Linked DNA regions of Homo sapiens: region 2 is linked to region 1. Evidence: fine-mapped expression QTL. A gene starts in region 1. The other region holds a variant in brackets. All regions are shown on one strand. Distances are between the middles of the regions.

Region 1 (5,392 bases):
AAATTTATCTCAATCACTGATCTTAAGAGCAGATTAGGGTTTTTTTGTTTTTTTTTTTTTTTTTTTTTCTGAGACCAAGTCTCACTCTGTCGCCCAGGCTGGAGTGCAGTGGCACGATCTTGGCTCACCACAAGCTCCACCTCCTGGGTTCACACCATTCTCCTGTCTCAGCCTCCCGAGTAGCTGGGACTACAGGTGCCTGCCGCCACACCCGGCTAATTTTTTTTTTTTTTTGTATTTTTAGTAGAGATGGGGTTTCACCATGTTAGCCAGGGTGGTCTCGATCTCCTGACCTCATGATCCACCCGCCTGGCCTCCCAAAGTGCTGGGATTACAGGCATGAGCCACCGCACCCAGCCCATAATTTCTAATCTTGTGGCTAATTTGTTAGTCCTACAAAGGCAGTCTAGTCCCCAGGCAAGAAGGAGGTTTGTCTGGGGAAAGGGCTGTTATTGTTTTTGTTTTAAACTATAAACTAAGTTCCTCCCAAAGTTAGTTCAGCCTACACCGAGGAATGAACAAGGACAGCTTGGAGGTTAGAAGAAAATGGAGTTGGTTAGGTCAAATATCTTTCACTGTCTCAGTTATAATTTTGCAATGGTAGTTTCCATTTTTCCCAAAGATTCAAAGTCAAGTCGATGAAGCAAATGTTGACATTTTAAACAAATAGTGCTGAAACAATTGGATACTCAAATTAAAACAAAAAGAACCTAGCACATATTCTACAGCTTTCACAAAAATTAAGTTGAAATTGATCAAGTACCTAACTTTAAAATGAAAAACTATAAAACATCTAAAAGAAAAAGAAAAGAGAAAATCTATGGAATCTTAGATTTGTCGATGAGTTTTTAAATACAGCACCAAAAGCACAATACATGAAAAAAAAGTAAGACTTTATTAGAATTATAAACATCTGCTCTTTGAGAAATATTAAGAGAGTTAAAGGACAAGCCATAGAATGAGAAAAAAATATTTGTGAAACACATATCTGGTAAAAAAAAAAAAAAGATAGAAAAAATAAAAATAATACATCCAAAATATACAGAGTGATGCTTAAAACTCAAGAATAAAATACAACTCAATTAAAAAGTAAGCAAAAGTTCTAAACAGATACCACCATATATATGGCAAATAAGTACATGTAAAGATGCTCAACATTGGTTGTCATTAGGTATATAAAAATTAAAATAATAATGAGATAACATTGTACATGTATTAAGAGGGCTAAAAACCAAAATATGCTAATACTAAATACTGGTTAGGATGAGGAGCAACAAGAACTCTCATTCATCACCGGAGAAAATGCAGAATGGTACAACCACTCTGATGGATAACTTAGCAGTTTCTAACAAAGCTAAACATATTTTTACCTTGTAATCCAGCAGCTGGGTTCTTAGATATTTACCTAGATGATTTGAGAAATTTTAACTACAGAAAACTTTCACATGAATGTTTATAGAATTTTATAAAATTATCACCAAAAACTGAAAGCTATCAAGATGTTCTTCAACACAGAAATGAATAAACTCTGGTATATCCATACAATGAAATACTATTCAGAGATAGGAAAGAATGAGCTATCAAGCTGTACAAGGACATAGATGATTCTTAAATGTGTATTGCTAAATGAAAGAAGCCAGCATGAAAGGACTGCTGCATACTGCATGATTATATTACATTCTGGAAAAAGCAAACTTATAGAGAGGGTAAAGATATCATTTGAAAGCAGCCTGGGCAAGATGGCAAGACCCTGGCTCTACAAAAAAAATTAAAAATTAGCTGGGCATGGTGGTGCACACCTGTAGTCCCAGCTACTTGGGAGGCTGAGGCAGGAGGATCCTTTGAGCCCAGGAAGTAAAGGTGGCAGTGAGCCATATATATGGTGCCACTGCACTCCAGACTGGGAAACGAAGCAAGACCCTGTCTCTAAAAATGAAAAAATAAAGAAAATAAAGATATCAGTGGTTTCTAGAGGTTCACAGACACAGATTTGAGTAGGTGAAGCACAAGAGATTGCCTAGAGTGGTGAAACTATTCTGTATGATACTGCAATGGTGGATAGATGATATTATGCATTTATCAAAACCCATAAAAGTCTAGAGCACAAAAACTTAACCGTAATGTATGAAAATTTTTAAAAAATTATTTAGGAGGTTAGGAGATCCCAGATACAAGGTAAACTGTGACTATACAACCATCCAATCTTCAACAAGGCCAACAAAAACAAGCAACAAGGAAAGGACACTCTATTCAATAAATGGTGCTGGGATAACTGGTTAGTATGCAGAAGATTGAAACTGGATCCCTACCTTTCACCAGATACAAAAATTAACTGAGGATGAATTAAAGACTCAAATGTACGCTCTCAAACTATAAAAATCCTAGGAAATATCCTTCTCAACACTGGCCTTGGCAAAGAAAATTTGGCTAAGTCCCCAAAAACAATTGCAGCAAAAACAAAAATTGACAAGTGGGACCTAATTAAAGAGCTGCTGCACAGCAAAAGAAACTACCAATAGAGTAAACAGAAAACCTACAGAATGTGAGAAAATATTTGCAAACTATGCATCCAACAAATGCCTAATATCCAGAATCTGTAAGGAACTTACAACAAGCAAAAAACAGAATACATTAAAAAATGGGCAAAGGACATGTACAGACACTTCTTAAAAGAAGACATACAAGCGGCCAACGAACATGAAAGAATGCTTGTCATCACTAATCATCAGGGAAATGCAAATCAAAACCACAATGCTATATCATCTTAAACCAGTTACAATGGCTATTACTCTACAGTCAAAAAACAACATATGCTGGCGAGTCTAGAGAAAAAGGAACATTTATACACTGTTGGTGAGAATGAAAATTAGTTCAGCCACTATAAAAAGCAGTTTGGAGACTTTTCAGAGAACTTAAAACAGAGGTACCATTCAACTCAGCAGTCCCACTGAGACGAGAAGTCTTCTTCTGATGGAAGGTTTTTCTCAATGGAAGCGTTCGTGTCTCACGGGCTTCAAGGAATGAAGCTGTGGACCACAGCAGCGAGTGTTACAACTTGATTAGAGAAACGGGCGGACCCAAAGAGTGTGCGGCTGCAAGATTTGTTAAAGTGAAAGCAAAAGTAAAGTGAAAGCGAAAGTAAAGCTTCTGCGTGGTGGAAGGGGACCCAGAAGGGTTGCTGTTTCTGGCTTGGGTGTCTTATGCTTATATCGCCTTATGACCCCTCCCCTTTTCCTTTTTCTGTCCTATACAATTAGCTTATTTTCAACCCACTTGTGGGTTGATGGGCCTGATTGGTTAAAAACATCAGGCTGTAGCTAGACCTTAAACTCCCTATATGATTGGTTGAAGTTTCAATCCCTTAGCTTGCAGCTGTGACTCATTTTGGCTTAGGGGAAAGTCCCCTTTGATTGGTTGAAGTTTAAATCCCTTAGCTTGCAGCTGTGACTTATTTGGGTTTAGGGGATAGTCCCCTTAGGGAAGTCCCTATTGACCCAGGAAGTCCAGCCAACTTAGCCACTTAGTCCCTCACCATTACTGGGTATATAACGAAAGGAATTTAGGTCATCATACTGGAAAAAACACATGCTATTGTATGTACATTGCCACACTACTCACAATAGCAAAGACATATGTGATGGTTAATACTGAGTGTCAATTTGACTGGATTGAAGGATACAAAGTATTGATCCTGGGTGTGTCTGTGAGGGTGTTCCCAAAGGAGATTAACATTTGAGTTAGTGGGCTGGGAAAGGCAGACCCACCCTTAATCTGGGTGGCACAATCTAATCAGCTGCCAGGTGGCTAGAATATAAGCAGGCAGAAAAATGGAAAAGAGAGACTGGCCTAGTCTCCCAGCCTACATCTTTCTCTTGTGCTGGATGCTTCCTGCCCTGGAACATCCGACTCCAAGTTCTTCAGTTTTGGAACTCAGACTGGCTCTTCTTACTCTTCAGCCTGCAGACAGCCTATTGTGGAACCTTGTGATTGTGTGAGTTAATACTTAATAAACTCCCCTTTATGTATATATGTGTGTTCCATTAGTTCTTTCCCTCTAGAGAACCCTGATACAGATGTTGGTACCAGAAGTGGTCTTCTAGAGGAACAGAATATTAAGGATGTAGTTCTTTCATTGGTTTTGGAATTTCTGGTGTTGGCTGCTTAATATTAGACGCCAAAAATGCTAAGAACTCTACTTCTAATAGCATGGAGAACACTGATAATCCTTGGCATGAACTGTTCGAGAAATATGCAAAATAAATGCATTTGACACTCCTGATTCATCGCTCCTGAGAGGCAAGGATTTTAGTGACTCTACATGTAATACCTTTGACCATATGTGGAGAACCAAGGAACATAATGAAGCTGGTTGGTTGCTCCTAAGTTCAGTGGAAAAAGTGATGAAAGAAAATAATGAACTCAGGGATTCTATCTCCCGGCCTCAGAAGCAGATACTGAGCCTCAAATCTGCTAAGACTGCCCTGAGTGAGAGTCTTATCTTCCTGTAGAGAAAGAGCTGAAATTGTGGAAAAACAGACACAAACCCTTATCATGTAGGCTGACCTGTAATGAAAGATGCATGCACAGCCTCACCAGGTGTCCACTGTTAAAGTGAGCGCTTTGATTAGAAAAGAATGGGGCCCTGCAACTTGGAATGGGGACGTGTGGGAGGACCCTAATGAAGCTGGGGACACTGAGTTTGTAAACTCTGATGAAACTTTTCGGCCAGAGGAAACAGCTTCCCCATCCCCAGTAGAGACAATATCCCCTCCCTGACCCACACTGCCATCAGCCTTTCCACCTTTGTCTGAGGAGATAAACCCTGTGCTGCCTGAGGCAACAGTGATGGCCTCCCTTGAGGCAGTTTCCAGGCAAGGTAAAGTTGATTATCTTCAGGAGCCACCTCCAACACCCCTGTTTCCTTCTAGACCTATAACTAGACTAAAGTCCAGGCGAGCCTCTAGAGGTGAGGTTGAGAGTGTGACCCATGAGATGTTCTACACCCAAAAAGAATTGCTTGAGTTTAAACAGAAATCTGGAGAACAGGCATGGGAATGGATATTAAGGGTGTGGGATAATGGTTGAAGGAACATAGAGTTGGATCAGGCTGAATTTATTGATTTGGGCCCACTAAGTAGGGATTGTTCATTTAATGTTTCAGCTGGGGGAGTTAAAAAAGGTTCTAATAGTTTATTTGCTTGTTTAGCTAAAATATAGATTAAAAGATGGCCTACTACGAGTGAGCTAGAAATGCCTGATCTCCTTTGGTTTAATGTAGAGGAAGGGATCCAAAGGCTTAGGAAGATTGGGATGGTACAGTGGATTATTCACTTTAGACCTACTCATCCCAGCTGGCAGGGTCCAGAAGATATACCCTTGATCAATGCCTTGG
Region 2 (5,392 bases), 45 kb before region 1:
CATGATATGCACATATATATAGATATACATATACACACATATGTATGTATGTGAATATATATAGTTAGCTACTAAAACTTTTTCCAGTGTCATAAGAAAACATTCATAGCAGAAGCAAAGGAAGCAGGAAAGAATTACAGAAATTTGAGGGTTATTTTTTGCTGTGGAAGAGGAGACAGAATCACTAATCAAAGATATAGTTTCACATATATTCAGCAGAGGAAGTATTGTTTTAACACTATTTTTTTTTCAGCAATATATGAAACACATGGATCTTAATTTATATCAAAATGTCATACAAAAGGAAGCATTCATCTTTAGAACATTTGCAAGTAAGCTTCCCATCTGTAAACTACCAATTATGATTTATCAAAGTGTCCAAGTACAGAGAAAAGTTTAGTTCTTCGGTATGAAAAATCGCTTTTTAAGCATTTTAGTTTACTTAATATTCAATAAGGTAGATAAAAGTTTAGCCCACACTTTCTATTTACATGAAAATGAATCAACGTAGAAAATCCATAAAGCTAAAAAAGCAGAAACATTTTCCTTGGAACAATTAGGATCTTAATGTGAGAATGTTGACGAATAGATAGGAGATAATGGAGAACTCACATAAGAAAAGATTTCTTTGAATGTGAGAGGAAACAGTCCCCAAGTACCTATGCTTAAGCAGAAGGAAGCAGGACAAAATAGAGGTAAGTGTAGATAGGTTTGTATAGGTGGAAGCAGAAATTGAGGGTGATATCATATTTTCTATGTGAAGAGATAAGATTGTTCTTTGGCTGGGAACTGGGAGGCTGAGTTCAAGTTTGAAAATACGCGGAGAAGAATTGACACTTTTGATATAATGATGAAAAGAAGTTGTTAACAAGAAATTCTGAACAAGATTTATGATTAGAAAGTAATGTTGATAACAAAAATGAGACGCCTAAAGAACTCTACGAATTTGGAAATGCCATGAACTGGGACTCTCACTGAAGTACAGAAATGACCATAGCTAGGAAAGCAAGTTGTACTCAGAGAGTGTAATAACTGAATTAGCAATTCTGTAGTAGAGATAATCTGCATTTATAACAAAATTCATAGTGTGAGAGATACGGATGTACGACAGGGCAGAGGACAGATTCTTCGGAGACAAGTATGTTAAGCATAGAGGGTTCATACGTCATGAAGGATGGCAGTGACAGAATTTGGATGAAGATATGTTAGTGAACCAATTACCAGAAGTTAGATGATAGCAGTAAGAAAGCAGTTGGAATTGTATAGTGAAATTTCATGAATCTCAAATGAATCTCAAATGTGTTTAGTGTGAGAGTGTGTGTGTGTGTGTGTAGGTGAGTTGGATTAGTGTCCCACCAAATCTTAAGTCAAATTTTTGGACGTGGGGACTGGATCATGGAGGCAGAGTTCTCATGAATGGTTTAGCACCATCCCTTCTTGGTACTGTATGGTGAATGAGTTCTCAAGAGATCTGGCTGTTTACATGTATGTGGCTCCATCTGTACCACCTTGCTCCTACTCCAGCCATATAAGATGTGCCTGCTTCCGCTTTGCTTTCCACCATGATTGTAAGTTTCCTGAGGCCTCCCTAGAAGCAAAAGCTGCTGTGCTTCCTATACAGGCTACAGAACCGTGAGCCAATGAAACCTCTTTTTTTTTTTTTAATAAATTACCCAGTCTCAGGTATTTCTTTATAGCAATTTGAAAACAAACCAATACAGTATGTGCATGTGTTTTTTGTTAGTTTTACAAGAGAATGGTGTCTCATTGCTAGAAGTGCCACTGCAGTTTAGGGAGTTCAGAAATACCACCTCACCATCCAGGGGTGTGTGTGTGTGTCCGAAAATAAGCAACCAGCATTAAGAGGGAAACAGTACAGGTGATATCTTCAGATGAGTCAAGTTTCACTTATGGCAGGCAATGTAGAAGTTGAAGATAGGTTTTATTATTATTATTATTATTCTAGATGGATAGTTCTAGAAAATACTGTGGGAAAGTTTTGAAGATGAGGATATGGTAGACAGCTGAGTCCAAAAAAAGCAAGTGCAGAACATTGAGAAGAACAGTACAGTAAATGATAGAAGATCATGTTTCCTTATACATGAGGCATTGACCGATAGAAAAGAGAGCAACGGCAGATGGAGAACCCTTTTGAGCAGGGTGATGTCAGAGTGTAGGGACTTGACAGTTTGACTCTCTCAGCTGGAGTGACCCTCCTCGGTGGTTTCCAACTATGACTATATGATATATAGCTGGGGTGAAGGTAGTTAGAGAAATCACCACCATTATAAATTAATACATTGCCATGTATATTTATATATCAATCCCCGCCAAATATTTTTAGTGTGAATCATTGTAATAGTATAATAAAATTTTTGTATATTGACACAATTGATTTCCTGCACCTGCAAATCTAATGTCCAATATTTAAATTACTATGTTTCCACCAAGGTAATTATATTATGAGATTTGCAGTCTAATAGCCAACCAGTCAACTTTGGAGGAAAAATCATATTATCTTCTCATGTCTTTTAAATTGAAACACATATGGACTAAGATTTTTATCATATATGAAAAAAATAATCAACTATTAATTTTTGTCATAATGAGAGAGGCTATTCCCTCTCTTAACCAATAGCTTATATCTTAATTTTCTGAACTCTTACGAGTATGCAAAAAATTACCCATCTTTTACACAACTGTATATACTGCCAACTATCATTGGATTAATTTTTCTAAAGTAGAACTAAATTATATAAGATCTTTGGAAAACAGAGGATATGATATGATTTGGCTGTGTCTGCACCCAAATCTCATCTTGAATTGTAGCCCCCATAATCCTCATGTGTCATGGGCGGGATCTGGTGGGAGGTAACTGACTCATGGGAGGGAGTTTTTCCATGCTGTTTTTGTGATAGTAAGTCTCATGAGATGTGATGGTTTTATAAAGGGCAGTTCCCCTGCACACGCTGTCTTGCCTGCTGCCATGTAAGACGTGTCTTGCTTC[A/T]TTTTTGCCTTCTGCCATGATGATGAGGCCTCCCCAGCCATGTGGAACTATGAATTAATTACACATCTTTCCTTTATAAATTACCCAGTCTCAGTTATGTCTTTACTAGCAGTGTGAGAACAGACTAATATAGGCATGAAATGTGATTCCTGGGTTTCTTTGACTGTTACTTTTGCTCACTCTGTTAACATGCATTTTTCTAGAATACCTTCTAGATATTAGTTATTGAATTAGACCAAACCTCTGACCTTGGGGAGTTCATGAGTTGATTGTGTTCAGTTTTCCCATCATTCTGGTGATCCTGCAGAGGGCACACTTCAGTTTCTAGATTTCATTTTAAATATTGATTTTCCAACAGTTTAAACAAACAAAGGTCATCCTAGAAAAAGATTTTTTTTTTTAGTAACAATTGTTTAAAATTTTTTTCTTTTTTTTTTTTTTTGCAAACACAAGTGCCAAAAACTCTGGCCTTCATTCACACAAAGTTTCATTTAAACAGATTGTCTTCTTTTCTCAGACTTGAATTTAGCTGGTGACTTGACAGTTGAACAGATGTTCACTTCCATTTCCGTAAGTCTGTATGTTTTGAAAAAGAAGATTAACATATTCACATCCAACAAAAACAAGGGCAGTTAAACCCAAACCATTTGTCTAAGGGAAAGAGGATAGAATTATTTTCATCTTTTGCATTGTGTCCTTTCATATAAATCTCCCTCACTTCACACACACTCACCTTTGGCTCTCAGAAGGAGCCAAAATTTAATTTTTCATGGGAATGTGTAGAAATACATGTAATGAAAATAATATTGTTTATGCAACATCAAGGCTTTCTAGATTTGTCTATCTTTGCCAGCAGCTTTTAAGAACATTCACTTAAAGCAATCTAGATAGTTGTCCTTATTGGAGAAAACATCAAAACCTCCACAAAAAGAAGAAAAAAAATAGAAATGCCCTGGCACTGTAATTAACACTTTGAAACAGAGATCCAGGCTACTTCAGGTTAATTTCAGAGACCCTAGCAAAACACGTATGCACACCTTCTTTATTTGAACCATCCATTCATTATTCTTTTTGTGTGTATAAACCTGGTGTTAATTCAAGCGGAATGCTCAGATGATTTGCTGGTGGCATATTTAAATAAAACACATAATTTTGTAATGTTGGTAAGGAGACAAAATCAGTGAACAGTACTTTGTGGGTAATCTGTTGAGAGGAAAAGAATGAGAGAATAAAAAGTAATGATACTCTGTTCTCTTATTCTATTTAGTGTATAATCATGGTACTCTCTGTTCTGCTTTCATGTAAATTCCTCTCCCCCCAAAAAAAGAAACAACAACAAAACACAAGTATGCAGTTACCCTGGATCTTAAATTAGACAATGCAGGTAGTGATTTATGGATAATGAGCTACATCAACAAGATCCAGGCTGGTGAACTGTGTGGCAGGTTGAATCAAACAAAGCTAAGTTACGTGTGATACTGAGTTCAGTAGATCCCACAGGGGATCCAGAAATCTCAGCCAAGGAGAGCTGCCACGAAAAGAGATACCAAATTTGTATACATATTTATTTAGATTTCACATTTCAAGAACATCCTAATGTACAATAGTCAAGGTGTTACATTTTACCTGAAAAAGTGCATATCATGAATGTTAAATTGTATTAAACAATTTGAAATGTAATGCAGATCATCAATATGATTATAGTTCTATGAAGTTCCATTCATTCACTCAGCTGGTATTTATTGAGGACTTAACTAGATTCATTCAGCAAACATTTTGTGGGCACCTTCCCTGTGATAGTCATATTTGGGGATATTGAGGACACAAAAGTGCTATGTCTCTGGTCCCAGAAATATAAAGATGAATGGCCTATTGTTTCTTCCCTTAAATAGGTGTTGAAAAACCAGATACATAAGCATACCTAACTAATTTGATTCATTGTGATAACAGATAAGATAGGAAGTAATTAAAAACTTATTAGTGTTAAGAGAAAAAATATCTATTAATTTTGAATATATGACAAGGAGCAGGGGAAATTTTCCAGATTAGGTATTGATGATGGTCCATAAGAGGAGTTATGATGTAAGTAGTAAAAACTTGTACTCAGACCTGTGATCAGTAAGATTGTAGTCAGTTTCAATATATTGTTTTTATCTTCTTTTCATGTTGTTATTTCACCTACAAATTTCTATATAAGCTTATAGTCCAAAACCATACCTTTTAATGCCCTTTTTGAATTTTAATGCATTGAAAAGTATGGTTGAATAAGCCATGCACTTGCTATTAGATACCTGGTTGCTTCTAATTGTTCATTAAATGATCGTATACAATTTTGAAAGATTGAAATATGTTCATAGAATTGACCTTCTAGTTTTACACACGCCA

Alleles and levels. Alleles are on the strand shown, and positions count from the first base shown. SD is a standard deviation of normalised expression in the study named.
For the expression in cerebral cortex of the gene that starts at base 3,111 in region 1, T is the low allele of the variant in region 2 and A is the other (small effect, 0.32 SD a copy in GTEx).

What was found. PIP is the estimated chance that this variant, and not a neighbour inherited with it, causes the effect. A credible set is the group of variants that fine-mapping cannot tell apart.
Region 2: its variant is the best candidate, but not a certain one, in a credible set for the expression of LINC02328 in cerebral cortex (GTEx, PIP 0.63).

Annotation. Positions count from the first base shown.
Region 1 is chr14:85,932,397-85,937,788 of GRCh38, reverse strand. It overlaps LINC02328 (long intergenic non-protein coding RNA 2328), which reads right to left and starts at 3,111. Exons shown (of 4, transcript NR_110155.1): 1 at 2,928-3,111. RefSeq lists enhancers at 2,997-3,206, 3,577-3,626.
Region 2 is chr14:85,976,964-85,982,355 of GRCh38, reverse strand. The region is part of intron 1 of LINC02328 (long intergenic non-protein coding RNA 2328); the gene reads right to left. Among named protein-coding and RNA genes, the nearest start is that of LINC02328, 45 kb to the right of the region's middle. The variant A/T (reference allele first, on the strand shown) is at 3,008.